3 separate regions of the Homo sapiens genome follow, and all the other regions are linked to region 1. Evidence: fine-mapped expression QTL. A gene starts in region 1. Each other region holds a variant in brackets. All regions are shown on one strand. Distances are between the middles of the regions.

Region 1 (9,973 bases):
AAAGGCGAGACACTGTGACAAATCTTTTTTCCAGCGCTAAGCCCTTCGAGGTAAAATGGGTGGAAAGCCAGGCCTGCCGCTAAGCCCTGTCCACTCTCTTCATCTTGCCCTTGGAGGGCCTCCTCCTGGGGGGCCAATCTAGCATGTCCATGTCCTTCTGGGCTGGCAGACAAACAAGCAATGACAAGCTTTAGGCCTAAAAGCTGGAGAAAGACAATAGCAAGGTTAGGCTGTTTGTTTCTCATCTCTCCTAGAGAGACAAGGATATCCCCTCCCCAAATCCCTGGTGGTGGCAGTGAAGCTCGGAGCAGTTGGATTTATTTAGGGCTTTTACTTTTTTTTTTTGTTTTGGCCAATTTGGAAAGAAAAGAGGCAATGACCTCTTCTTTAAAAAACAAAACTAGGCAGGAAGTGTACTGGGCCTGAGTGGCAGGGACTAAGGGTGTAATTACAGGTTTTTGTTCAGCATTTTCGAGTAATTAAATCCAAAGGAAAGCGAGCCTAGCCGAGGCTTCTTGGATGCAGGGCAGAGAAGAGCTGTGTGTATGTGTGTGTTTTGTGTGTGTTGGGATGGGGAGGAGAGGCAGGAGGTGAGAAATGGATTTGCTTTTCAGGCTGAGAAGAAGCGGGCTTCTCGCCTTTATTAATATTTTTACATTGCTTTTTCCAAAAGGTAGCCGATTATTCATCTTTTATTCGGTGCCACTGCCCTCTCCTTGGTGACATTTTCAGCGTGCACAGCTTTCTAGGCACTGATTTTCCTTCACGCCAACTCTCCCCCTCCCCACTTTTTCATATTCCCGCTTTCTGCCTGGTTGCCCACACAATAAACCCACTGCAAAATCCGCAGCCAGCTTTCTTGCCTACAGCTTCCATCCCAGCGACCTCCGACGCTGAACAATAGTCTCTCCTTTTGTTTTAAACATCTTCTGGCTTTCCTTGTTCCGCTTTAAAATACTTCTTACCACCACCATCCCTACCCAGCCTCCCCCGTGGTTGCCTCGGTTTCCTTTTGGGACAAGCAGTCTGTGCACAAGCGCACCTGGTTTGCAACGCCCAGAGCGTTTGAAATGGGTTCAAAGCCTAGGGATGCGCGGGCTCCTCTCTCCTCCCCTCCTCTTCCTTCCCTCTCCCTGGGCCCTTGATGTCCCTCCGACGTTCCCTGGACGTTGTGAAGTGACAAGCAAGAAAGCATATACTGTCTGCTCACATTTTTAAGGGCAGGAAACCTGACTCACCCCCAGACCACGCGCCCCAAGGAGGGGCACTTGCATTTTCCGGCGGGTGGGGGGGCGGCCTCTACTAGGGTTAGCTGGGGCCGGCCTGGAGGCTGCCCCCTCCTCTTCCTCCTTCTCCTACCCCCACCCCACATCATGCCCGCAGATTACCGCCCCCACTTCCCCCGCCAGTCCCCTTCACCTACTCTCCCCAAGAACAGATTGTTTATCAGAACGGGCAGCCAAGAAACCTACTCCTGTTTCTGGCCTCTGCCAGAGATTAATCACACTTGGGAATGGCACAAAACTTGACTGTGTTGGGAAGGGGTGAGGCGTAGGGGGTAGGAAGGTGGGGAGATGTGGGGTGGGGGGATAGTTAAAAGGAAAGACCAATACATTTGACAAGGTGACCAAATCGGGGTTACCGCTGCCTCTCCCCTCCTTTAATTTTAGTAAGTCAGTGCAGAAGACGGAATTCTACTTCATTCCCACTCCCTCTACCCCCACCCCCAATTACCTTCCTTCTTCTCTAGGTCTTCATGTTTGATGCTTTAATAGTACTGACTGGCTTTTAATTCTGATTAACATTCTCAGCTGGTGCGTGCGTGTGTGTGTGTGTGTGTGTGTGTGTGCGCGCGCGCGCCCTCGAGCGCGCGTTGGGGCCTGGCAAGACACACTCAAACCGGACTGCCTGACAAATCCCCCCTTTTCATCCTTCTCTTTGAAATGACATCAAGATGGACTTGTGGGGGGGGAGGGATGAAGAGAGGAGGCACGGAAAAAAGAGAGGGAGGGGGAAGGAATTTATGTGCTTTTCTACGGCAGCTAGTAAAATTCCTAAGGGAGAACAAATGCCAAAATTGACTGTCTTGGTGTATTTTAGACCCGATCGTCAGGGTGAATCATGTCAGGGCTTTGCAGTGGACCTGCAGCCTGGGAGCTGAAGACAGGGACACGAAACATCCCTGTGTCTGGGAGGTGCCCTTCTGAAAGAGGCAGGAGATGGGTATTTGCTCTCACCAGGCTCCTCTCCTTCAGGATTTTTTTTTTTCTAATTCATTGCAAGATGGAGTTTTTTTTTAAAAAATTGGCACTGATAAAAGCCAAGGATAGAAAACTCCCCATAAAACACGGCCCCCCAAGGGAAGTGCAAAACCCATTTGATGCAAAATATAGATATCTTCACCCTGGATTTTTCCCCCTTTGCTTTACAACTCTGCAGACATCAGGTTAGCAAAAGGTAATAAATAGTCCTTGCACAGCAGGGTCTGGACTAGTGAAAACAGTTTACTGAAATTAATGGGCCTCGTTTGAACCAAAACCTCCACTTTGGAATTAATGCCAGACATAGTTTTCCTGAACTCTATCCAACCGCCTAAGCGGCAGACAATTTTCATTCTATTTGTGCTGGAAAATAAAGCCCAAGCCCTTGATCTCAGTGTAGATTTTCATTAAAAAAAAAAAAAAAGTACAGTGAATACTATGCCAATTTCCACTTTCTGCCCATAGAAGCCCTTGTGCTCTGGGCTGTGCGTGACGGTCAGAAGTTATCTGGTAAACTTTGCATTGAAAAGCATCTCCGAACTCCCTCCCCATCTGTGGCCTCACAGCTTTCACCATGACATCTGAGAGATTCAAGGAAAGCTCCAGAAACAGGCTTAGCTCTCAATAACAACCCTCTTCCCTACAGATCTTAGAAAGGCTGGATCTGAACAACGCTGCCTGCAAGACCTCCATTCCCACCCTAAATAAAGCGCCAAACCATCCAACCGAAACCCACCCCTCCTCCCCTGGTACTCAGGGTGTCTACAGCTCTGAGGCTCCCTTTATTTTTATTTTTATTAATGTATTTTTAAGGCTGAAAGGCACACACACCACACGCATTCACACCCAGTGGTTATGGGGTTTTGGCAGGTACGCGGAGACCCGGTGCCCCAGCTGTCAGTGTCTGATCCCAACCCCTCCTCCTCCTCCCTCCGTTATTTATTAATAAAAGCCTGGTCGTGGGCAGCCGGCGTTCTGGTTTTCATTGTACAGTCTGCACTGGTGACACAGGACATGTGGAAAATTTTGAGAGCACTGCGGTGAATAGTGTGGAGGGGGAGCGTGAGCAGGGGGAGGGGAGGGGAGGGAGGGGAGCGAGTTACTTTTTAGCTTCCGCTAAGTACTTGGCGGCTCGCCAGGCCCGGAGAATTGTGGGAAGCGAAAACCTCCCCAGTATAAACTGCCAGCTTTAAGCAGCCCTGACAGTTCTGCTCCTTCCAAACTTGGCAGCCGTTCAAAGTGCTCTTTCATTTGAAATGCTGGAAGCCTGCCATGTGCAATGCAGATTTGCTGTGCCTGTGCGCAGAAGGAACTGATAAATGCCGTTGCAGTTGCCATGGGGACAGGAGGCTATCAGAATGGCCTTGTGATCCGCAGCCTCTCTGCGCGGCAGGCTCTCGTTCTCCCCCTCCCGCCCCTCCTCCCTCTAGTCAGTGAGATGGTGAAATAAATGTTCTGGAAAAAGGTTAACCCTCCCCGCTCTGGTTCCGAGGGTGAGAGGAGGTTAACCTCTAAGCACTTCCTTGGCCTTAAGTGCCAGCCCGGAGCACAGGTGTCAGCGCCGTCCTTGGGTGGGTCACCATCCTCCCGCTCTCCTCTTTCACACCCCCAGCTTTCTTCCTGCTCCCTGGGGGCTTTCACAAAGCGGTATTTTTAATAGAGGCTTTTCAGCAAGCTCAAGTGTAAGTCTTTGAGTCATCAAAACCCGGATGTAAACACAGCAGCCCTGCATTCTGCACAGTTTGCGTGTATTTTATCTTTTTAATAATATTTAGCTGGCAACTTAAAACTGCAAGGATGCCAGATATTTTAGCCAGCCACTTACATCATGCAGCATCCATCTTGGGGAGAGTGGTGGCGGGTCCTTTCCTTGTTCTCTTGCTCCCTGCCGCCTACCTGAGACCGCAGGAAATCTGGGTCTTTCTGAAGGCATCTTCTTGTGGTGTAGTCCCCTTGGAACCGCGGCCTTTAGAATGAACATGACATCACCTTGGGCAACAACGACAGAGGGTGTGTTCCTGTAGGAGACAAGACACGGGGAGATCCAAGGTGAAACAGATCTATCATTTACGCTGCGCCAATTTCAGGTGTGTGAGGGTGCACAGTCTGGATCATCAGCCCCCCATTTAGCACGAACTGCCGTTTGAAACACAGTCTGATTTAATGTACAGAAACAAAATAGCACATTCAGATTTGGTATATTTTCAGGCCTGTAATGCCAACACTCCGGGTGGCCTGTTTAATGGGGAAAAAATGAAATATTCCACTCCAGCCCAGGCCTATGGAAACCAAAGAGGTTTAGTGATTTATTTACATTGGGGGTAAAAACGGTGAGCAGTATTCCTTCTCGGCTCGCTACTTCCTGAAGGTTTCCTGAACCTAAACATTCGTTAACATCCCAGGAAGGGAACTTATTTTTCCTGTGGCTTTCAATATTTTCTGCTAAATATATTTCGGCACACTGTTTATCTTGGGCTTCAGCTTTCAGACCTTTATGCACTTTTAACACCTTGAGGCTGTTTCACTGAAAAATGGTGTATGTTAATTAAAGAGGACTTTATGTGCTGGGCATTAAGGCAGGGGGGATTTCTGTTTTGATCTGTCTGTATAATGAGGGGCTTCAGGATGAAACACAAGTCAGAGGCCTGTTAGCTTCGTGAAGCCCTTTTGACAAAGCGGGACCTTGAATGTGGGCCCTTGTATTCAAACACTTGAAGACCACAGAATGTTGAACTGAACGAAACATTTCTTCCTAAGTGCATGGTGAACATGGAGGCCAGGAGACGAGAAAGACTGAAAATGCCCCAAGTTCCTGGGGCTTAGCTGCAATTTCTTTGAACTTGACTGTCTCTGGGTGTCTGCTCGTGATTGTCACGGCAGCTCTGGCCAAGGCGATGCACTCTGTCTCGCTGGAATTTCCTGATTCCAAAGTAGCCCCTTCCAAATAAATAATCAACAAACGCCATCTGCTTCACCTTGCCAGCAGGCACAGAGCTGAAGGGTTAGCTAAAACCTACAATTTTTAGGAGCAGTAGGCTCTTGAGACATTTCAAGATAGGTTTCGACTTGGAATTAAACTAGAGTTAGAGGCAGAAATCAGGTGATTCAGAAAGCAACCCCCCCTCCCTCCCGCCAACTTCCCCAGACAGTCCAGGCAGCTGGGTTTTTGGCTCTCACAGCTGCTAAGCTTTGGCAAGCCAAAAGCATATTTCGTGGTGGTGATTCCTTTCCCAGGTTGACGGACATGTTTCTGTACTGAGCACAAGGCATGTTTCCTGACCGTGTGTGAATCAGAGGCTGCATTTTTATCCAGGGCTTCTGGTGACAGTTTTAAGCTGGATGAACAAAGCAGACCCTGACATGTCCCTGTCATCAAGGTCAAGAGATACAGAATCTATCCTAAATGTTCGCCACCTCTAGCCCAGATGTATTATATTTATTTATTTTTGTTTTGTTTTGTTTTTTGAGGCGGTGTCTTCCTCTGTCGCCCAGGCTGGAGTGCAGTGGGGCAGTCTCAGCTCACTGCAACCTCCGCCTCCCGGGTTCAAGCAATTCTCTTGCCTCAGCCTCCCGAGTAGCTGGGATTACAGGCACGTGCTATCATGCCTGGCTACTTTTTTTGTATTTTTAGTAGAGACAGGGTTTTGCCATGTTGGCCGGGCTGGTCTCGAACTCCTGACCTCAGGCGATCTGCCCTCCTCAGCTTCCCAAAGTTTCTGGGATTACAGGCATGAGCCACCACACCCGGCTATTTTTTTTTTAATCATGCCAAGAGCAGCCACCACCCCACAAGTCAATGGATGCCCATGTTCATGTGTCAGATGTTACCCTTCTCTCTCTCAGTGTTTTTGTAGTGTTTGCTTCTTTGTTGGCTTTGGTGAGAAGATTTACAAAAGCCATTTTGGACCCTTGAGTGCCTTTCCAGATCGAGGCAAGCTCCAAGATTCCAAACAGCCTTGACCTCGTCTGTGTCGCCCCATTATAGCAGGGATGATAACCGGAGGGGAGTCCTTGGTGTAGCCCCTCCATACCAGGGCCCGGAGAGCCAGCTTCCCAGAAATCCATGGATTAGGAAACTCTGTCGTGGGCCAGTTCAGGAGCGGCAGGGGGAACAACTCCCTTTTGTTTTGTTGTCTAGCATGTGACCAGAATGCTGCCAGCTAATTTTAACCCCACCAAAGTACTGCTGGGAAAAAAAAAAAAAAAACTATCTTGCATCTGGAGAGAGAAATGCTGTGGGCTGGATAAAAGCTTTTCAGCCTGTGTTCCTTCCTGTTTCAGTTTCCAAACTTGCATTATCGGTAACCTGAAAAATGATGAGTTTCACCAAATTCCTGGATGTTGTGCAAGAGGACAATGAGTCTATTTTGGGTGGTGTGAGTGTGTCTGGCATAGACACTGGGAACCATTGTTTTCAGGAGGGAGAATGTTTTGGGGTTTCCTGGTGCTTTCCTTATAGGGTCTCAAAGCCCCAAGGGGTACTGCTGGGGGGAGAAACCCTCCATGGCAACCATGGAGGCTGTGCTCTGCAAAAGACCTGGCTGAGAATTGGGTGGTTAGGCCAGTGGGTGGGGGTGAGGGGTGACGTGGCAGTGGTGGCTCCAGAGGTGTTAAAAGGTGCTCTGTAGGGAGTGTTTGAGGTAGAACGACTGGAGCAGGAAGAAGTGGGGAGAGAGAGATGCTTTCACTGTGGCTGGGCGGCCCCCTGGGACACAGGGCACCTCTTCTACTAATTCTCCATATCTGCTTTTAGCACCATGCGTGAATGGAGGATTATATGGAGTTCCCCACCCTGGATACTGGATTCTCAAAGCATACCTGTGGTGGTTCATTGTTGCTGTCTGGCTGGATGGCAGTTGTTGCTAGTGGAAAAGTCCAGAATCGCAAGACCCAGGAAATGAAATGGTTTGGGTGAGACAGCGTGTAGCTAGGCAGGTGCCGCTGACTGTTCTAGAACTAGATAGTAAGGTGGACTGCCGTTAACCTGAGTGTCCACAACGCAGTCTCGGAAGATAAGGTCAACACTGCAGCACTTGCTGCAACCTCAACCAGGAGAGCTTGGTGGCAGTTGTTCTGACAGCTGCAGAGGGCCTCAGCTGCCTAAAAAGCCATTTGCTCAGCCCTGCCCTGTCTGGCCAACTTCTGTGTATTTCAAGGATCCTCATGGGTCTCTGTGGCCCCCCTCTTTTCTGAGTCCTCAGGCAGACACCATCTTCGGAAGGGCAGGGAACCCCATGTTCTGCTTCTAACTGGCTGCTATAACCTGCCAGCAGTAGTCAAGATCAGTTGGCAAATCCCTAAATTAAGGTTCTGTTTATTTTGTTGTTTCAAAGGCTTGTTTTGAGCAAGATGTTGTGCTTTAATTAAAAAGATGAGAGATCATGAGTAAGTGAAAATATTTTTGAATCTTCACAAATAGGTTTGAATTTCATTTCTTGCGATTCACAGTAGGGGGTCAAGCTGATCAGCACTTTTATCTGTGAGACCATCTAGAAGGTCTTCTGTAAGTTAACAGCTGACTCTTCTGCACAATAGAATTGTAAAGGGAATCCTCTGTCAAGCATTTGTTCCTTGCTGCTTCTCTGTTTACAGATTTTAGCCAGCCTTCAGCTGTCATTAGGGCATATTCCTCATTTACCTTTCTAGCCAGAGGATTCCTAAATGTTTCATAATAGCTCCACAGCTGGAATGCAGCTGCTTGGGGTGGAGCAAACATAACTCCCTATAGGTCAGCGGGTGAGGGAGGGCAGGGAATCTTGGAAGGTTGGGAAAGTCCTTCTAAAGCCAGAGCTCAGGAATGAGTGGGGCCACTGGTGTGAAGACTTTCCAGATGGGGGAAGGAAGGGTTCATTTTCTGCCCTCTGGGTAGATTCCAAAAAATCGCTTTGGGGAGGCCAACTATTTTGAAATTGCCTTTAAAGAAGACAACACAAATGTTTAAACTGACCTGGAAAAGCCTTTCTTTTTCCTTTCCCTACAATCCTAGTCTGTTCCCTTGCACATTAATCAACAGAATTGTGTGCCCACGATTCTCCCCTCCCTCACCTCTTTTATTATTATTATCTTTGGTTCAGGAAACTTTTGGAAGCTTTCCCAGGCTGGAGCTATAGAATGATTCCAGGAAAATGCATAGGAGTTTCTGAGTTTTCTCTGGAGGGAGCTGAACATGTTTTTCAGAGAGACGAAGCTAGGGGCAACCAGGTCTTGTGCAAGAATGCAGCCACAAAAGAGGGCAGACAGTGCTAAAAAGATCTGTGGACATCCAAAAGTTCTGAAAGCAAGGTGTGGCTTAGTGAGCCTGCCTGTTCCCCACCCCTTCAGTGTTTTATTATGGCAGCTGCCATGATGTCAGTCCGTGAGCCCAAGCACCCCATCTCAGGGAGATATGCTGAGAACAGCTGGGTGCTGGGGTTTGGACTCTCAAGTTAGCAGCACTTGTAGTTTCTGCCAAAAGAACACTCCAAGATATAGATGGAAAAGTGCAGGGAGTCAATACTTACCCAGCAGGCAGGGGCCCCACCCAGACATGGAATGCAATGGACAAAAAAGTGTCCTTGGGCTATTGCTGCCAAGGGTGGTGCCAGCCTTCAGCCTGTGCCAGCGCAGATGCTTTTGAGCCCAGAAAACACACACAGAACTGCATGCACGCATATATCAGAAACATCTGTCTATACACAAAACCAGAAAGCTACTGGGGAGGTGTGCATAGATGAGGTACAAGAGCAAGGGGGACCTGCAGGACCCATCACTGATAGATGTGGCTTTTTTTTTTTTTTTTGAAACAGGGTGTTGCTCTGTCGCCCAAGCTGGAGTGCAGTGGCATGATCTGGCTCACTGCAATCTCCACCTCCTGGGCTTAAGTGATACTCCTGTTTCAGCCTCCCGAGTAGTTGGGATTACAGGCGCACGCCACCATGCCTGGCTAATTTTTGTATTTTTAGTAAAGATGGGGTTTCACCATTGGGCCAGGCTGGTCTCAAACTTCTGACCTCAGGTGATCTGCTCACCTTGGTCTCCCAAAGTACTGGGATTACAGGCGTGAGCCATTGCACCTGGCCAGATGTGACTCTTGAAAGCAAAGGCAGCTTATATTTCCTGGAAATACACTTCATTCAGGTTGGTTCACGGGCAAAGGAGACAGAAGTTGCTCCTTAAGGAGAATGCCCTGGGCGAGGGCAGAGCTGCCAGCCACTCTGCAATGGTAGGGCTGCTGCACCCACTGTGGCCAGGAGAACCTCAGGAGAGGTGAAACAATCAGAGGGTTGTGGTGATAGAAACTAGAGGACACAGCTCCCAGCTCTCCTCGCCCCGTTAGTTTGAAGACTGTTACCAGCAGCACTGTCGTGGTTCTGGCAGTAAAATCTCCTTCCTTTCTACCCAGGGACATACCGACTCCGGAAAGCATCTTTCCTACAGCAGGTTGGGAAGGTGCTTAACAGCCCAGACTTTAGGATATTAATAGCAATGATGATAGGCAAGGCTGACATTTATTGGGCACCTCTTATGTGTTGGACATTGTGCTGGCTGTTTCAATGCATTATCTCTTCTAATCCACACTTAATGAAGTGGATTCAGTTATCGTCCCCATTTTATAGATGAAGCAACTGAAACTCAGAAAGGTTAAATAACGTTATCTTAGGACACACAGCTAGTAAGTGTTGGCTGAAGTTTGAACTCAGGGTTGCCTGACTCTAGAGGCCTTATCAGACAGA
Region 2 (9,973 bases), 29 kb after region 1:
ACCACATTGCTTTGCAACTTTTCCCCCATAACTGTATATTCTGGACATTTTCTCATGTCAACAAAAATAGGACTTCCTCTTTTTTTTTTTTCTTTCTTCTAGAGATGCGGTTTCACTCTGTTGCCCAGGCTAGAGTGCACTAATACAATCATAGCTTACTGCACCCTCAACCTCCTGGGCTCAAGCAATCCTCCTGCCTCAGCCTCATGAGTAGCTGGGACTACAGGTGAGCACCACCACACCTGGCTATCCTCATTTTTTGTTTTTAACCTCTACCTAATATTCCATGCGTGCCTGTAACACAGTTGATTCAACCACGCCCCTCTCACTCCCCCTCACTCAGGGTCCCAGCTCTAGAGGACATGGGTCAAAAGGTTTTCATGGTAAATGGTGCCTCTGCACAATTCCAGGGGATGCCATCCACACCCAGAATGCAGCAGCCCTGCCTGATGAAGAGATAAGGTGGCTCCAGTTTTTACCATACAAACAATTCTGCACCGAGCATGCTCACCCATGTCTCTTTGTGCACATGTGTGAGTGGTTCTCCAGGCATTGATGATTCAGGGTGGAGCTGGAGGGCAGAAGTGCATGCTTCCGACATTTCAGGGACCTTGCCATGGTGTGGGAGGGCAGCCTGGGGTTCCTAAGCCCCTTCAGCCTCTGCTGAACCAGGTTGCCTAGCATACATCCATCATGTGGCTGCCGGCTGGGCCGCTGCTTCCAGGAAATCAATTGCAAAAACCTGCGATTGTCAGTGGCTCACACACTGGAGGCCATCCAGGGAGTAGATTAAATTGTATGAAAAAATAGTACAGGGCTCAAGACCGCTCGTAATGGAGACCCCTCGGTGACCTTTCTGCAGAAGTTAAAAGAACACAGGCAGACATACTCTCACCCTTGCTCACCAACGTGCTAGCCCGCCTGCCAGGAGCATAGCCCCTCTGCCCTTGGAGGAGCCGCGCCTCATTAGCAGGAAGTGGGAGGCCTGGTCCAGGGCCCAGTCTGCCTGTGCATGGCAAGAAGGCCAGCAGGGGCACCTGCTTCCCTGCAGGGTGGACCCAAGTTGACCATCAGGCCTTAGATGCTTAAGGTCACTGAGCCCCCCTTCTCCATGCCAGCCCTCTTCTGCTTCCCATGCAGGCACCACTGTGGACCCCTGCTCTGCACCCCCAGGAGGAGTGGGACTGCTTCAAGGGCAGCCTGGAGGAAAGAGGTGTGGTGTGAACACATACAACATGTTCCTTAACCAGGAAGGCGACTGGAGTCTTTACCTGGTTTCAAAGCAGCCAAGCCTAGAGGCCCCCACCCCTTGTTCTTTATTATGATTGCCCTTTGACCCCAACCCCCCAATTCTTTCCTCTCCAGATCCCCAGCCATGCATACTCCAACTTGGTTCTGCAAAGAATACCCAGCCACAGCTGTGAACTTGGGGAAACACATTTTTTCTTTTTCTTTTCTTTTCTTTTTTTTTTTTTTTTGAGAGGGAGTCTCACTCTGTTGCCCAGGCTGAGGTACAGTGGCGTGATCTTGACTCACTGCAACCTCCACCTCCCAGGTTCAAGCAATTCTTCTGCCTAAGCCTCCTGAGTAGCTAGGACTACAGGCATGTGCCACCACCCCCAGCTAATTTTTGTATTTTTAGTAGAGATGGGGTTTCACCATGCTGGCCAGGCTGGGCTTGAACTCCTGGCCTCAAGCAGTCCTCTCACCTTGCCTCCCAAGGTGCTAGGATTATAGGCTTGAGCCACCATGCATGTGCACGGCCAGCACATTCATTTTCTATACATAACTGTCTCCCAGCTCTTCAGGCCAACTTACCTGATAATGATAAAAATAACTAAGCTGCCATGGATTGGGCAGTGTGCCAAGTGCTCCATGTATATTACCTTACTTAGTTTTCACAAACTCTATGAGGTAGGTACCACTATTATTTACAGGTGAGGAAATGGAGGCTCAGAGAGGTTAAGTGAATTGATCCAGGCCACACAGCTGGTAAGCGCCAGAGCCACTAGTGGACGCCAGGTCCAGCCAGCCCCCAGAGCCCATGTGCTGAGCCACTGTGCTATACTGACTCCCACTTAATTCTCTCTTCTGGGTTGTCCCAAAGACCAAGTTCGGCTGGCCAATTTTCCAGGACCATCTCTCATGGCACCTGGAGGCTTGTAGGTTCCTGGAGGACTCTCACACCTCCTTCCCACCCTTCTCCAGATTCTCCAACTCCCTCTTGAGCAGACCCGGCCCCACTCTGGGGCACCCTGCCTTCCTGGGACCTGTCGTAACAGTCACCCACTCTGCCAGGGCCTGGCTGACCCAGGCTGGGGACCGTGGGACCCCTCTGGGCAGTGCCCCCCTACCTGGGCCCAGGTGGGTATGGATTTCTTTCTTCTGGGCCATTGCACCCGCCAGAAGGTGCGGTGGGAGAGGCAGGCCCACATTTCAGAGGGCCTTGCTGCCCCCATGTGGCATGAGGCTGTAGCGGCTGCAGCCTCCTCTTCCCTCCCTCCTGCCACTGCTCCCGAAGCCAAGGCTTTTGCAGGGTTGAAAAGGAAGAGAAAGAGGAGAAGCAGGAATGTGAGAGAAATGAGGCAGAGGGATGGGCTAGGGAAGAGAGAAGCCCTTCTGCGTTACCTGGAAATGCAGCAACAATAATAACAAAGCCAATGTTAGGAATGTTTAAAGGCAGCTGCCACATAGCACTTTTTATAGCTTGTAGACTCTCTCATTTAATCCTGGCACTTACATCAATCTGATTAGTAGCTATTATTAGTTTTATAGGTGATGATCCAAGGCGCAATTATTTGTTCCCCAGCTAGTAGGTGACAGAGCCCAGATTGAATCTGACTCCAGAACCCTAACCACGATATTCCCCTGTCTAGAAGGAGCCAGTTCTCTCCTGCAACCCCCACTGCTCAGCCTCTAGGAGTTCCAGCCACCAGCCACCTGCACCCTCCCTTCCATGTGGCTTTGCCCTCTGTTCTTCTCCTCTCCACTCTCTCTCCAAGGTCCAAGTGGTCAAGGTCATCCCAAGGGTCTGCTGGGACCGTGTGTCCTTATTCTGTGCCTTGCTGGTCGCCAACCTTCCCCATCTGCCAAGGACTGATGTCCAGCCCAGGCCCAGGTGCAGGTGCCCAGGTCATTTTTGCCACTGAGTAAAGGGAGACAGAATGACAGGGTAAATTACCAACCACCAGAACACCATGGAGCCAATAGCATCAATGCAAGTGAAGTATATTTATCTGTTGGCCTGAAAACATGTCCTAGTATATTGTCCCATTAAGCAAAAAGCAGGTTATAAAGCTGTGTACATTAAGAAACATTTTATAAGTGAAACAAAAGTATTCTCCGTTTCTATGCAGAGAAAAAGGATATTTGCCAAGATGTTAACAGATTATTTTTGCTGTCTTCTCTTGGCTTATTTTTGTTTTCTCTTTTTCAATGAACACCAATTAGTCACATGATTTTAAAAAGCAATAAAAATAAACCAATCCCAGACGGATTGTACTTCTTCCTGTCCTCATTTCTACCCCGAGTCTCCAAAAAAAAAAAAAAAAAAAAAGAAGAAAGAAAAAAAAATCACAGTGCCACATGCCCAGACCTTCCCTTCTCCCTCCTATCATTTCAATAACTCAGCTGGGTAGGGAGCGTCTCTACCTACCCCAGGAAGCCTTCTGAACTTGACTGACAGGAGAAGCCCATGCCCCAGGGGCATTTTCTCACTGACCATGCCAGGGCCCTGGAGGACAAGCCAGAGCTGTCCATGGCATTGCTCCTGCAGGTGATGCTGCCTTCTGAGGGCAAAGCGCTCTGGGACGGGTCGGCCCCGCTCACGTGGGTGTGCAGCCCCAGGGCAGTGGAACAGTGCAGAATCCTCGCTCCACTGCTGAGGTTACTATGGGCAACATCTTGGCAAAATGAAGAGTGAGGGGGAAGAAATCACAGAAGCTCCTGATCATCCATGAAAGAAAAAGCAGTGCCTCAGGACTGGGCTATGCCAGTGCCTTCCAGAAGGCTTTGAAGAAACTGGGAAGGAGATGGGGACTGGCACTTCCTGGGCATCTACTATGTACGTGCCCTCACAGACGTGATCTCACCCCTCATTACACACCTCCCATGGTACGGATGATGCCACTGAGGCACAGGAGGCACACATCCACACCAGACCATAGGTGCCTTGGCTTCTAGTGTCTCTGCTGCTTAACGTGGTGTCCTGGAAACGTCTCTGGATAGAAACACTGGTATCTTCTGGAAGCGTCTTCTCCTCCCCGTGCGGTACATTGCTCAGACTCCATAGAAGGCCAGCTCTCCTAGAGCCACAGAAACTCCTCCATTCTGGAGCAGGAGCTAGGCACATTCCCAGAAGGGGGCTGCCCCTCCTGAGCCCTTGCTAGTTTAATGATATAAGTTGTTGCTAACTTCATCCTATCTGCCTTTAAAATAGCAGCCATCAGAAAGGCAGCCCAGAGAGCTGGCCTGCAACCCAGCAGAGCCTAAAGGGGGCCTGTAATGTCACGCCGACCCCATCTTCAAATCACACTCCCTGTGGTGGCCATCCCTAGAGACCTACAAACAAAAGCTCCTGTTCTTGGCAAGCCTCTTACAAGCAGGACAGATGCAGGAATTGGGAGTCAGAAGACCACGGTGTTCTTCCAGCTCTGAGCCCAACCATCTGGGTCACCTTAGCTGAGCTGCTCCTTCATGTCCCCAACCCTTCTGTTCATACAGCATGATGGTGTAGAAAGGGGTCCAAAGGGTGTTGCTGAAGAATGCTCAGCCCCCTGGCGCTGTGTCTGTACTAAATAAAAGTCTGGTAACAGATTCCAAGTCCCTGAGTATCCTGGTTTGGCTGTACTCAGTCGAAGCGTGATTGATAGTGACATCCTGTGGACACAATAGGTAACTGCATCAGCTTGGACAGAAGCCAGAGGATGACATCCAGCTTCCCTCATTACATGGAGAGGAGCTGATTGCAATTAATCACACTCATCATCTTACACAGGGAGCTGTCTTAGAGCTGGGAAAAAAAATTAGAAAAACAACCTTCAAGGCCAGGCGCGGTGGCTCACGCCTGTAATCCCAGCACTTTGGGAGGCCGAAACGGGTGGATCACGAGGTCAGGAGTTCGAGACCAGCCTGGCCAACATAGTGAAACCCTGTCTCTATAAAAATACAAAAAATTAGCAGGCATGGTAGCGGGCACCTGTAATCCCAGCTACTAGGGAGGTTGAGGAAGGAGAATCGCTTGAACCCGGGAGGCGGAGGTTGCAGTGAGCTGAGATCATGCTACTGCACTCCAGCCTGGGCAACAGTGCAAGACTCTGTCTCAAAAAAAAAAAAAAAAAAAAAACCGTCAAGCCACAGATTTCTCTGCCATCATCCTCCAAGTTACATCTATTTCGTTTAAATTTGTCTGTCTTCAAATACTG[G/A]CCTGATACAAGAGTCTAGTGACCATGGAGGGAAAGTAATGTCAATAGCAATGTTAAAAGCAGAAAGATGTAATGGGCAGTTTACTCTTGCCATGAATTTCACATGCATTATCTCATTTAATCTTCCCCCAAACCCAAGGAGGTACATGTTCTTATCCCCAATTTTCAGATGAAGAACCTGAGATGCGGTGCACAAGGAAAAGCTATGTTTCAAACCTGGACAATCTGTCACCCGCCTGTCTTAGTCCATTTCGTGTTGCCATAACAGGATACCTGAGACGGGGTAATTTATAAAGAAGAGAGGTTTATTCAGCTTACAGATCTGTTGGCTGGGAGAATCAAGAAGCATGGCCTCAGCATCTGCTCAGCCTCTGGTGAGGGCTGCGACATACAGAAGGTCAAAGGGAGAGTGAACACTTGCAAAGAAGGGAAAACCCAAGGGGCATCCTGGCTTTATAACAACCCACTGTCTTGGGAACAAATCCATTCCTACAAGAATCCAGTCTTGCCAGGGTGAAAACTCACTCTCCACTGTGAGGATGGCACTAAGCCCTTCATGAGAGATCTGCCCCCATGACCCAGACACCTCCCACTAGGCCCCACCTCCCACCACCACCACACCGAGGGTCAAATTTCAACATGAGTTTAGGTTGACGCAACCATATCCAAACCACAGTAGACTCCATTCCCTTTAATCACCACTTTATGCACCTTCACTGCCTCTTGTGTCTACCTGGCCCACCCCATGCCATGGTAATCCCTCCTTCCTAGAACACTGGAGAAAATTCCACTTCCTGGGATACTGGCTTGAATTCTCCAGACTGAGTACCTCTGAGTCACCTTCTGTGGCAGCAAGGAGGAGGTGGATAGGAGGAGCTTTAGGGTTAGACAGGCCTGGGTTGGAATCCCAGCTCTGTGCCTCGCTGTCACTAGCTGTGTGTCCTGGGGCTTGTTCTTGAACTTCACTTTCCTAGATTGCCAAGTGTGGCCCATGATCCCTTGCCTTGAGAGGGTGTTGTGAAGATTAGAGAAATCACTTGCTGCTGAGTAGATGCTCAAGAAGTGAAGGCTGTTCTCGTTGGCAAGATGTGCAATTTGACCTTGGGAGGAGCCAGCCTGGAGATTTCAGCAGGTGTCAAATTCTTATCTAACCTGTTTAGAAAACACCACTACTAAGAAGGGCTAGAGGCGGGCGGATCACCTGAAGTCGAGAGTTCAAGACCAGCCTTTCCAACATGGAGAAACCCTGTCTCTACTTAAAATACAAAATTAGCAGGGCATGGTTTTGCATGCCTGTAATCCCAGCTACTCAGGAGGCTGAGGCAGGAGAATCGCTAGAACCCAGGAGGCAGAGGTTGTGGTGAGCCGAGATCGCGCCATTGCACTCCAGCCTGGGCAACAAGAGCAAAACTCCATCTCAAAAAAAGAAGGGCTGGGATTCAGATGGAGGAGAAGGCCAGCCTTCTTGCCCTGAGGCTTATGATGTTTCAGAGGGGGCTTGCTGATCTATCAGGGTTCAAAGGATCTCCAAAGGGAGTTATTTAGCTAAGATGGCAGAGCAGAAACAAGATTCCAAGACTTTGTACCCTGCCTTTCCATAGAGAAATTATTATTCAAAGAGTAGTATCCCAGCAGGATTCAAGTTCATGCCTCCAGGTATCTTTAGAGACCCTGGTACCATGAGCCAGCCTCTGTGTAGTTCAGGAAGCGCAAATTCAAGACTAGAAGTGGGGTGTCTGGATTCTAGTTCCAGCTCTACCTCCCACTGTTCTTGCAGACTCTTGAACTTGGTCCTCTTCTTGTCTCTTCAAGGTCATACCACTGAATGCTTCTCCTCTTCAGTGCCTCAGTGATGTCTCTCTTTTCCCTTCCCTGCAAAGCAGTGCTGTCCTTCTTGCCCATAGTGCTCTACTAGCAGAGACCATAATGACCACTGGTTAAGTGATTAAGAACAGGGCTGTTCATTTCTTTTTTTTCTTTTTTTGAGATGGAATTTCACTCTTGTTGCCCAGGCTGGAGTGCAATGGTGTAATCTTGGCTTACCACAACCTCCGCCTCTCAGGTTCAAGTGATTCTCCTGCCTCAGCCTCCCAAGTAGCTGGGATTACAGGCATGCACCACCACACCCAGCTAATTTTGTATTTTTTTTTTTTTTAGTAGAGACGGGGTTTCTCCATGTTGGTCAGACTGGTCTCAAATTCTTGACCTCAGGTGATCCACCTGCCTCGGCCTCCCAAAAGACTGTTCATTTCTATAGCCCCAGTCTCTAATATGGCATCTGACACATGGAAAGTGCTCACTGGTGAAAGAGTAAGTGGGACAACTCACTATAAATGGCTGTGGGGCCCATTGCTGGAAATATCCCCAGAGAGAATAGCACTGGGGCCCCTAACCATTCCAAGTAATGTTTAAGAATTATAATATGGAACTCTTTCTGTTCCAAGTTACACTGAGGCCCCAATATGACAGATATCAGTATTAGTTATCTATTGCTACATAACAGATTACCTCAAAATTTAGTAGCTTAAAACAATAATAAACATTTATTATCTCAGTTTCTCTTGATGAGGAATTGGGGAGTGGCTTAGCTGGTGTTCTGGCTTAGGGTTTGTCATGAGGTTACAGTCAAAATGTCAAGTAGGGATGCAGTCATTTGAAGGCTTGACTGGGGCCGTATGATCTGCATCTAAGATGGCACGCTCACATGGCCAGCAAGATGGTGCTGGCTACTGGCAGGAGGCCTCAGTTCCTTGCCATGTGGACCTCTCCATGGACCTCCCTGAGTAGCTTCATGACATGGCAGCTGACTTCTCCCAGAATGAGTGGTTCAAGAGAGCAGGGAGGAGGTCACAATGTCTCTTATGACTATATTAGATCCACAGGGCTGCTGTAACAAAGTACCACAAGCAAGATAACTTAACAGAAATTTACTCTTTCACAGTTCTGGGGGCCAGAAGTCTGAAACCACATTGTCAGCAGGGTCAGAACGGTGGCACATGGAAGGTGCTCATTGGTGAAACAATGAGTGGGAAAGAATAAATCATTCCTTGCCTCTTCCAACTTCTGACGGCCGCAGATGTTTCTTGGCTTGTGGCTGTATCATTCCAATCTCTGTCTCCATCTTCACACGGCCTTCTCCCTTGTGTCTGTCTACTCTTTGTCTCTCTCTCCTTATGAGAACACCAGTCATTGGATGTAGGGCCCACTCTAGTCAAGAACAACCCTTGATTACAACTGCGAAGACTATTTCCAGAAAAGGTCACATTTATAGGCCCTGGGGGTTAGGGCTGCAACATATCTTCTGGGGGACATCATTAAACACACAACAATGACCTAGCCTCAGAAGATGCATGCCATCAGCTCTGCAATAGCAAGTGGCTACAAGGGTCGGCCCTGTTCACGGAGGGAGGAGACACAATGATGTGAATACCAGGAGATGGGGACAATGAGGGGCCATTGTGGAAGCAGGCTACCACAATATCATCAGATAGCAAACTGAACATGAGACAGACTCCCATATGTAGTATTTACAAAGGAAATAATGGGGAACCAGTTGCATAGCACTCAGGGCCCTCAGCCTACCAACAATATAGAGTGTGGAGAATGGGGAGAGTTTGGAAATAGAAACTTCCAGAAAGGGCAAAGCCATGCTGTAAGCTACCCCACCAAGGAGTTAGGGGCCCTACTGCTTTCAACTCAAGCCTAGTGATGGGGGCTTCCATGCAGCCACTTGGAGCTGTGGGCCCCCATGGGACTGTGCCAGGAGGGACTGCATTAGGATGAGTGAAGGGGCTGTGTGAGTTCTTCCCATGGGCCACATGTGGATCAGATGGACCATGGCAGGAGAGAGGGCCAAGGTGGGGGTCATTTTAAGTCCTGTAGGGCCTCTGAGAAGGGCAAAGGGATGTCAGCAGAAAGAAGTTGGAAGAGGATGCTGGATTTCTAGGGGTTGAAGATGGAGTCATAGCTGTACCTGAAATGGAGGTGCAGAACAGGGAACTTCAGGAGAAAACCTTAGAGATGGGAACTTTTTTTTTTTTTTTTTTTAAGACAGGGTCTCACTCTGTTGCCCAAGCTGGAGTCCAGTGGCCCAAACTCGGCTCACAGCAACCTCTACCTCCTGGGTTCAAGCAATCCTCCTGCCTCAGCCTCCCAAGTAGCTGGGACTACAGGCGTGCAGCACCACCCCCAGATACTTTTTGTATTTTTGGTAGAGATGAGGTTTAGCCATGTTGCTCGGGCTGGTCTAGTACTCCTGGGCTCCAGTGATCTGCCCGCCTCCGCCTTCCAAAGTGCTGGGATTATAGGCGTGAGCCACCAAGCCTGGCTGAGATGGGAACTTCTGAAGAACACAGGGAACCCTCCAGAAAGAGCTTTCACCATCTGCCACACCCAGAGAGCTGGCAATCATACAGTCAAGTAAAAACTGCCCTATTCCCCTGCTCCCCATCCGCTTCCCTGCATCCTCACCCACCACCTCCACTTAGACTCTGAAAGCAACCAGCAAGTGGGGAGAGGGGTATTCGGGAGAGAATAGACAAAAGCCACCA
Region 3 (9,973 bases), 40 kb after region 1:
AAAAAAAAAAAAAAAAAAAGAGTCCAGCTTTTTAAAGAAGGGTGCCCCTTGGTGGAAGACAACAGGACAAGGCAGGAGCTGGGGCTGCGGAGAGTCCGGGGTCTGCAGAGCATGGGGCTGCCATCAGAGACCCACCAGGCAGGTTCCTGCTCCTAGCAAGGACCCGGCTGAGCAGAGATGAGGGTGTGGAGGTGAACCTGGAAAACATGCAGAGGATTCTAGACACATTCCACAGTCAGAGCCTCTGGAAAGCCCACCTTCTCCATCACAGAGGCTTTGGGGAATAGACATCCTGTTTCTCTGTATTATTACAGCACAAAGCATTTATCATGCTGACAATGACAGTGACATTTCAGGACCTAAACAAGCTTAGTTGTTCACAGCTTACAGGAGAGAAGGCTCCTAACACTCTTTATTTATTTATTTATTTGTTTGTTTATTTATTTTGTTTTTGTTTTTTTTTGTTTTGAGACAGAGTTTCGCTCTGTCGCCCAGGCAGACAGAGTGCAGTGGCAAGATCTCGGCTCACTGCAAGTTCCGCTTCCAGGGTTCACGCCATTCTCCTGCCCAGCCTCCCGAGTAGCTGGGACTACAGGTGCCTGCCACGGCGCCTGGCTAATTTTTTGTATTTTTAGTAGAGGCGGGGTTTCACCGTGTTAGCCAGGATAGTCTCCATCTCCTGACATCTTGATCCACCCACCTCGGCCTCCCAGAGTGCTGGGATTACAGGCGTGAGCCACCGCGCCCGGCCTATTTATTTGTTTTTTGAGACAGAGCCTTGCTCTGTCATCCAGGCTGGAGTGCAATGGTGTGATCTCGGCTTATTGCAACTTCCACCTCCCAGGTTCAAGCAATTCTCCTGCCTCAGCCTCCCGAGTAGTCGGGACTACAGGTGTGCACTACCACAGCAGGCTATTTTTTTTTTTTTTTTTTAGTAGAGACAGAGTTTCTCCACGTTGGCCAGGCTGGTCTCGAACTCCTGACCTCAGACAATCTGCCTGCCACATGATTAGGTCCTGAGGGCTCTCCCCTCATGAATGGGATTAAGACTTTTATAAAAGAGGCCTGAAGGAGCTTGTTGACCCCTTCTGCCATGCAAGGACACAGAGGAGGCACCATGTATGAGGAATGAGCCCTCACAAGACACTGAATCTGCTGGCGCCTTGACCTTGGACTTTCCAGTCTCCAGAACTGTGAATGATAAATTTCCATTGTTTATAAATTACCCAGTCTAAGGTATTTTGTTATAGCAGCCAAAACCATCTACAGAGCACTAATGACAGTTTGGGCTGGATTATTCTTCGTTGTCGGGGCTGCCCTGTACATTGTAGGATGTTTTGGAATATCCCTGGCCTCTATCCACAAGATGCCAGTAGCGCCTCCCCCAACTCCATGACAAAACTGTCCCTTGGGGGCAAAATTACCCCTGGTTGAGAATCACGGCCAAGTAGCAGTCCCCATTCAGTGACCAGACAGCTAAGGAGATCCAGAGTGTAGTGCTGGGCCACACAGATGCTAAGGGAATTTATACTTCAGGAAAAAAAAAAAAAAGGCCAAGTCTATGTGGCCTTCGCATCAGTTATTACTCTCTCGGTTGCACTAAGTGACAGAAAATTCACCTCTAAATGACTTTAAATTGGGATGCTGTTTCATATAACTAAGCAGACCAGGGATTAGGCATTGTGCTGGTTCAGGCCAAGCTTGATCCAGGGATTCAAACAATATCACCAAGATTTGGCTTTATCTTTATCCCCGATGCTGCTCTTCTCCATAGCGTTTTCTTGTTGGGATAAGATGGCTGCCAGCAATCCAGTCCCACCTCTTCCTATGCCTGAGACTTGTGAGGAAAAAACATGAAGTGCTTTTCTTTTTGCAGTCCCAGCAAAAGTCTCATTCCACTGAACTGGCTCTGACTTGAACATGAATCCATCATCAAGCAAGACACCATGGCTGGGGAATGTGATGGCCTAAGTGGCCAGGTTGTAGTCACATAACCACTTCTGGATCTGGGAGTGGAGTCAACTCTGTCTGTGGGACATCAAGAATGGGGAAGTGGGGTTCCCAAGAGGAAAGTAGCATACTACCACTGGGAGACAGGTGAAAGGATTCTTGATGACAAAAAGCAATACATAGCTACCACAGTCTTTTTTTTCTTTTCTTTTCTTTTCTTTTTTTTTTTTTTTTTTGAGGCAGGGTCTCACTCTGTCGCTCAGGCTGGAGTGTAGTGTGAGATCTCAGCTCACTGCAGCCTCAACCTCCTAGGCTCAAAGAATCCTCCCTCTTCAGCCTCCAGAGTAGCTAGAATTATAAGTGTGCACCACCACACCCAGCTACTATTTGTATTTTTAGTAGAGATGGAGTCTCACCATGTTGCCCAGGCTGATCGCGAACTCCTGAGTTCAAGTGATCTGCCCACCTCGGCCTCCTGAAGTGCTAGGATTATAGGTGTGAGCCACCACACCTGACCTACCAAAGTCTTTATACCAAAAAGAAGCTCACTCTTAAATTGATTAAGGTGAGAGCTAAAAGTTTAAAGAAGACTCTGCCGAGTGGTAGTATAATACCTGTGCCATGATTGTCCAAATCAACCTCCAGGTGACAAACAAGAACTCTTTCAGGTATCTCTAAGATAAACTAGCATCTGAGATGGTTCATTCAGATGGATCTCTAAAATGGAGACTGCCAGAGTTTTACCAAGATTTTTCCTCCCATTTTTTCATAGTAACATATATGTAGTTGGGTCCATAGTTGCTCAGCTGGAGATAGCATTTCCCAATTTTCCTTGCAGTTCAAATCGTAGTACATGTGAGTCCCAGCCCTGGAGTGAGTAGTCACTTGGGGGACACCTTGCAGTTAGGTGTGACCACATGACTAAGTTTGCACTATATGGGCAGAAGAGATGATTACACCTAGGCCTTAAGATAGTGGGAATGCGGCAGGCTGAGACATGAGAATTGCTTGAACCCAGGAGGCGGAGGTTGCAGTGAGCTGAGATCATGCCACTGCACTCCAGCCTGGGTGATAGAGTGAGACTCAAAAAAAAAAAAAAAGATAGTGGGCATGTCTCATCCTTACTCTTTCCCCTTCCCTTGAACCAGAACATGATCTTGCCTGAGACCTAGCTTTGCCATGCTAGTAAAAATGATGCCCTAAGAGATGACAGGAAAATGCAAAGAACCTGGATCCCTGAATGACCTTGTGGAGCAGAGTATCCTGACAATCTGCAATGAATACCTCAAGTGAGAAAGAAATAAATTTGCCTTTTCTGAGAGACTAAATGTTGCATTACATCTATTCTAAGATCCATGTTTTTAATGTATTCTAATATCTTTGAAATCCATGGCACTGTTGGCCAGGTAGTGGTCAAGACCACCCTTAAGGTACGTCAGACCCCAGGAAAATGTTTTTTCTGGAACTCCTCCTGTCTATATAAACAAATTAATCCTAGCACTTTGGGGGGCTGAGGCAGAAGGATTGTTTGAGCCCAGGAGTTTGAGGATGCAGTAAGCCATGTTCATACCACTGCACTCCAGCCTGGGCATCAGAGCAAGACCCTGTCTCAAAAAAATAAAAATAATAAAAATAAACAAATTAGGCCCGGTGTGGTGGCTCATACCTCTAATCCCAGTACTTTGGGAGGCCGAGGTGGGTGGATCACTTGAGCCCAGGAGTTTGAGACCAGTTGGGCAACATGGTAAAACCCCATCTCTGCTAAAAATACAAAAAATTAGCCAGCCATACTGGTGTGTGCCTGCAGTCCCAGCTACTTGAGAGGCTGAGGCACGAGAATCCACTCCAGGAGGCAGAGGTTGCGGTGAGTCGAGGTCACACCATGGCACTCCAGCCTGGGCAACAGAGCGAGACTCTGTCTCAAAAAAATAAATAAATGAAAATAAAAAATAAATTAATTAATTTAAAATTAATAC[A/T]TTGCAAAATTCATAGATCCTTGTGAAGTATAGTGATTTATCACTGAAGATTTAGAATAATGGGTAAAGAAGAGCTACTTACGTATTTACTTGTTTATTGTGTAATCAATGCACATGAATATTTTTTTCTAGCTGCCAGGCATCATTTCTTCTATTTTGATCCAGTAACTATCTCTTCATAACTTCATATCTCCCACCATGAGAAAACAAGAGCAATACATCCTTATGTTGGCTAAATACAGGACAAATAATATTATTCTTTTAAGAACACCATGCCAGTGTTCTATCACAGCCTTTACTTGCCTTTGTTGCATGCTATTACTGAATGTTTACTGAAGCTTTCTCTCCATTCTAGAAATTGCAGGTCGTGTGGAAGTGACGTTTCGTGTTCTTTTAATAGAGATCCTGTGTTTCTGGTCCCAGATACTCTCTGTGGCTAAAGCTAATGTTGAAACAGAGATGTTTAAACAAATAGCAGTAGTAACAAAACACTTTGGTTTTAAACTAAGAATATACTTAGACCACAAAAGCAAGTTTCTACAGGTTTTTTTTTGTTTTGTTTTTGTTGTTGTTGTTTTGAGAGGAAGTCTCGCTCTGTCAACCAAGCTGGAGTGCAGTGGTGCGATCTCAGCTCACTGCAACCTCCGCCTCCCAGGTTCAAGCGATTCTCCTGCCTCAGCTTCCTGAGTAGCTGGGATTACAGGCATGTGCCACCATGCCTGGCTAATTTTTGTATTTGTAGTAGAGATGGGGTTTCGCCATGTTGGTCAGGCTGGTCTCGAACTCCTGACCTCGTGATCCACCTGCCTTGGCCTCCCAAAGTGCTGGGATTACAGGCGTGAGCCACCGTGCCTGGTGGGAAAGGGACTTTCTCGGGGGATTCCAGCTTGTAAGTGGCAGGGCCTGGATTCGACTAAGACCTTTAATGCCACATCCTGAGCTCTGTCCACCATACTGTGAAGTCTACTTTTAGGGCAATCCCATTTCTATCTTTGTCTTTTGTGTTATCTGGATTGAAAGAGTTTAATTTCTGTGTGTTTATTTTGGAGTAGGGTGCAGTGGATGTTTCTTAGCACCTACAGAGAAAATTCTTGTATAGCAAGAAGTCCATTTGACAAAGCACTGTTAAATTTTGGACTACAACCATTGCAGATTTCTCCCAGGATTGCGTTCTCACAGATTGCCAATGAGATGAGAGCTTTCATGCATTATGTTTCTTATGCAAATAAGTTGACTTCCTTTTCAAGTTATATGAGAAACCCCCACTATTCCTGGGTTTTATGAATTATGGGATGGAGTGTACAAAACATCACCAACCTTCTCATTTCTGTCCACCCAAGTATTGTTAAGTATTTGCATCAATTGACATAGTTTTGCTATCTTGAATTGAAGAGGGTTTTGAGTTTTATTTGTTTGGTTTTGTGGGAGTTGTTTTGTTTGGGTTCAGAGCTCTCTGGGGAGAAAGATAAGTGTACTGGAAGGTATTGATGAGCTGTTATCTTCCATGATGGTTTGAGAGACTCATTTCCAGCCCCTGTGAGGGAAGCGTGAGGGGCGATAAATGGAAAGAGGAGTAACTGTGTGAGGCTTTGTGCAACTAAAGATATATGCAGCTTTGCTTCACAACACACTTAACGAAGTGCAGCCAGTCTGTGAGAGGTCCCTGCTGCCCTATCCCACCCTCCACTTTGGTGACCTGCTGGCTTAGAGTGGCCCCAGGAGAGAAGGGAGAGAATGCTGTTCCCAGCAGGGCAACAGGAGTGACCACTGCAAGAACAATGTTCTTATGGAGGCCACAGACACTGATGAGGTACCCCCTTTTAAGGAGCTTGTGAATAGCAGACCAGGAATGGGGAGGCTGAAGGGGAAGAACATAGTGGATTTGCCTATGAACCTATGGGAGATAGTTCGGGGGTCTCCCAGAAATAACTAAGGGTGAGTTAGCAGGGCGAGGGGATGGCTAGCAAGTTCTATAGACCTTCAGTAGGAGACCAGAGCTAATGAAATTTAGGTCTGGATGTCAATATGACCTCCTTGGTTAATATGACCCATAGGCTGGTAAAAATCTCTTACAGGATGTTGTGAGACACTGTACTTTATTCCTGTCTTTCATATGTCATTTAACTTCAAAAATTCTGTCTTCAGTGAAGACACCATGAGAAATGCTTACAATGCAGACTCTTTCCAAGTGCAGTTATCTGGGGCAGGCCGCCCGATTCGCTGATTGCCCTGCCCACCTCCACCCTTCTAGGGAAGGCTCTAGTGGGAGGAATCTCTTAGAAACTGTTCATAGTGCAGCAGCTAGAAAAGTCTAGCTGCAGGGTTTTGGGGTGAGAGGAAAATAGTTTCTTTTCTATGCTAGGGTAGTGAGCCAGATATGACTTGCTAAAAAACCTCTGAGTGACTAGGGTATTAGGCCAGATTTTCGCTATTTTAACTGAAGTTGAAACGAGAGGAAATACGGTGTAAACTGCAGCATAAAGGATTTAGATTCAAGCAATAAAGGATTTCCCAACATCAAAGGGCAACAGATCTCTGCTCTGGGTCCATCATTAATTTTTATTTTATTTATTATTATTTTTAGAGATGAGGTCTTGCTATGTTGCCCAGCCTGGTCTCAGACTACAGGCATTCACCACTGCATCCAGCTTTTCCTTCCTTCCCGCCTTCCTTCCTTCCTTCCTTCCTTCCTTCCTTCCTTCCCTTCTTCCTTTTTTTCTTTTTTTTTTGACAAAGTCTTGCTCTCTTGCCCATGCCGGAGTGCAATGGTTTGATCTCACCTCACTGCAACCTTCGCCTCCCGGGTTCAAGCGATTCTCCTGCCTCAGCCTCCCAAGTAGCTGGGATTATAGGCGGCTGCAACCATACCCAGCTAATTTTTGTATTTTTTAGTAGAGATGGGCTTTCACCATGTTGGCCAGGCTGGTCTTGAACTCCTGACCTCAGGTGATTCGCCTGCCTCGGCATCCCAAAGTGTTGAGATTACAGGCGTGTGCCACCATGCCTGGCCAACACCCAGCTTTTTCTAGGCCTTTTTTTTTCTTTTTTTTTTTTGAGACAGAGTCTCACTCTGTCACCCAGGCTGGACTGCAGTGGCGCAATCTCGGCTCACTGCAACCTCCCGCTCCTGGGTTCAAGCGATTCTCCTGCCTCAGCCTCCCGAGTAGCTGGGACTGCAGCTGTGCGCCACTGCACCCAGCTACTTTTTTTTTTTTTGAGATGGAATCTCACGCTGTTGCCCGGGCTGGAGTGCAGTGGTGCGATCTCAGCTCACTGCAACCTCCGCCTTCCAGGTTCAAGCAATTCTCCTGCCTCAGCCTCCCAAGTAACTGGGATTACAGGCGCCTGCTACCACGCCCAGCTAATTATTTATTTTTATTTTTATTTTTTTAGTAGAGACAGGGTTTCACTATGTTGGCCAGGCTGGTCTTGAACACCTGACCTTGTGATCCACCTGCCTCAGCCTCCCAAAGTGCTGGGATCACAGGCGTGAGCCACCACGCCCGGCCTTTTTTTTTTTTTTTGTATTTTTATTAGTGACGGGGTTTCATCATGTTGGCCAGGCTGTTCTCGAATTCCTGACCTCAGGTGATCCGCCCGCCTCAGCCTCCCAAAGTGCTGGGATTACAGGCGTGAGCCACTGCACCCAGCCCTAGGCCCATTTTTAAAGGTAAATAGAGAGCCCTCTCTTGTTAGCCAACCTTCCAGATCTAAATGGCTAAGTGTCTCTTCCTGATCTCCCATCCTTTACCTAAACTAACTGATCTCCTATTTGTGTTCCCAAATCTTTCTTATAGCACTTATAAAACCATTCTGGGAACTCCTTAAGAGAAGAGACTGGGCCTTATATATGCTTTACTGTGCTCCTAACCCTTGGGAGGGACACAGTACACAGTAAATGTTGGTTAGCTTGATCGTAAGTGAAAAACTGACTTGAGACAGGAGACTGTGGCAGTACTCATTAGAGCAATCTGTGTAGCACTTTTTTGAGCTTCATGTGTGGAATGGGGCTGTGAAGAGCTAGGGAGAAGTGGTTATGAGGATGAAATGAGGAAGCTTAAGGAAAACGTCTGTACAATGTTTGGTCTCACACAGTCCCCTTCTACCCTTTGTCCTCTTCCTTCTAGCTGACATTGTATTGGGAAGCAAAGGTCAGGGGCTCTGTGTGAAGGCAAGAGGTCCAAATGATTTCTCAAGGGATCTAAGGGAACTGGACGGCGGAGAAAACGATCAAGGGGCAGGCCCTGCACAGGGACTGGGAAGGCAAGCAGAGAAACTAAAGAGCGCTAGCCAAAATGGTGGAAGAGAATTCTGGGGCTGTGGCACAACTATCCACAAAAGCTTCCTCTTTCCTTAGTGGAGTCTCAGTACAGTTCACTCAGGAGGAGAATCTAACGAATAGGCACCAGCTGCATCAAGGGACACTTACTTCACTCCATGTCCTGGCACCTTCCTGAGGATGAAGATGCCACAATTCACCAGATGAGTCAATTCACGGGAAAGGCGCTAGTCAAGTCCCAGGCTCTGTCTAGCAACTGTCTTTCCAGTGGAAAAGAAGTTAGCTGAAGTAATCAAAGGATTCCCTAACGCAAGAGTTGGGACATGCCAAAGTCCCTCTTCAAGGGGAGAGAGGCAGCTGCATGGTTACAAAGTAGACAAAGAAAGACAAGGGGCTTCTTTTAAACTGGAATGTGTGAAATAGAAGCAGGGAGCTGTGAATGCCACAGCAGCAATTATGCAGAAAGACTGCAGTGCAGACACTGAGCAGCACCATCCTATCTGATAACATCAGCAGCGGCAGAGGCATATTCCAACAAGAGCTGTTTAAGAGCTGCTAATTACTTAGATTCCAATAGGAGCTATGTCTTAAAAGTGATTACAATTTTTGATTACAGCTTTTTGAACTGATTGCAGCTGTAAGCTATGAAGGCAGTAATCTAAATACAAGCAAAAATTCCTTTGATCAAACACAAAGGAACTCTTCCAAATAAAGATACCTTTATTTTACATACATATATAGCTATGTGTTTCGCATGCGTAAACAAGTGAGTTATACACATCTATTAAACATATAACCATCTACACTAAATTTTAGGTTCCCTGAGACCAGGGACCACACTTGTGCATCCTTATAATTCCTTACAGTGTCTAGTAGGGTATATGGCACATAGAAGATGCTTACTGAATTGAATGAAAGTGAAACAATTGCTGTATTAATGATTTGATCAGATAATTGTTGTTTGTTACAATAATGGCCTACTATAGAATAAATACTGGGAAAAGCAATACAAAAGTCCATTTTACTAACCTCAAATCCAGGAAATGTACCTTCTTTTCTAGAAACCCAAAAGAAGTATGGAAATACATTCTTGAAAAGAAAGCTAACCACTCTACATTCCACAACAGAGACCATGTTGACTGTGCTGTGTGAGTTGCTAGGCAACCACTTGGTAATTCCCCATGTAATAGAGATGAACCTATCATCTGCTTTCTTAGCTATGTGTGACAAGAAGAGACAACAGGTAAAGGACAACCAAGAATACCTGCACCTGGATGACACAGTCACTCCTGCTGAAGTATGGTGACACCGGAGAAAATCCCCATGCCCTGTCAGAAATTGCTGGAGGGAGAATTTCAATTTCATTAAACTATTAGCACAAGACATTGCAGTGAATTTTCTTGGATTTACCTTGTGGGTAAATCCTGTGGGTTATCCCATTATACTTGTCCACAAAGCAGGAGGCCAAACGTACCATCGTTCTGCATGGGAATGGCCATCAGTTCAATAACAGCTCCAGATCAGCGTGTCCCGTGATGCCAGCTGGGATGAGACTTTACTAGAAAAAAGCAGCCCTTTAAATCTTAAAAAGGATACTCAACATCTTAAAGAAACCCCAAGTTCTGGGTGAATAAATCACCCTTTTTCATACCTGAGGAAAATGCTCATTTGTTTGCACAGGATTTCCAAGACACTTTAGACACATAAGCTGCCTTGTAACGACTCCGCTCAACTGTAGGTATTGACATCACTGTCTTTAGGCTAAAAA

Which allele goes with the higher level. Positions count from the first base shown, and alleles are read on the strand shown. Sizes are in standard deviations (SD) of each study's normalised expression. Not every link is listed here.
For the expression in subcutaneous fat of the gene that starts at base 4,082 in region 1, allele G in region 2 goes with a lower level than allele A (small effect, 0.24 SD a copy in GTEx).

Evidence for each region. PIP is the estimated chance that this variant, and not a neighbour inherited with it, causes the effect.
Region 2: its variant is fine-mapped to the expression of LINC02288 in subcutaneous fat (GTEx, PIP above 0.99).
Region 3: its variant is fine-mapped to the expression of LINC02288 in whole blood (INTERVAL, PIP above 0.99).

The regions. Positions count from the first base shown.
Region 1 is chr14:77,036,968-77,046,940 of GRCh38, forward strand. It overlaps LINC02288 (long intergenic non-protein coding RNA 2288), which reads left to right and starts at 4,082. Exons shown (of 4, transcript NR_110554.1): 1 at 4,082-4,310. RefSeq lists a silencer at 3,255-3,444 and enhancers at 3,554-4,285, 3,561-8,043, 3,695-3,784, 7,590-8,100.
Region 2 is chr14:77,065,969-77,075,941 of GRCh38, forward strand. LINC02288 (long intergenic non-protein coding RNA 2288) reads left to right here. Exons shown (of 4, transcript NR_110554.1): 3 at 103-226; 4 at 1,141-3,535. LINC02289 (long intergenic non-protein coding RNA 2289) reads right to left here. Exons shown (of 3, transcript NR_110553.1): 2 at 5,742-5,804; 3 at 3,212-4,878. Among named protein-coding and RNA genes, the nearest start is that of LINC02289, 5.2 kb to the right of the region's middle. RefSeq lists a silencer at 2,258-2,552 and an enhancer at 2,522-2,581. The variant G/A (reference allele first, on the strand shown) is at 5,424.
Region 3 is chr14:77,077,133-77,087,105 of GRCh38, forward strand. No RefSeq gene overlaps it. Among named protein-coding and RNA genes, the nearest start is that of LINC02289, 5.9 kb to the left of the region's middle. The variant A/T (reference allele first, on the strand shown) is at 3,927.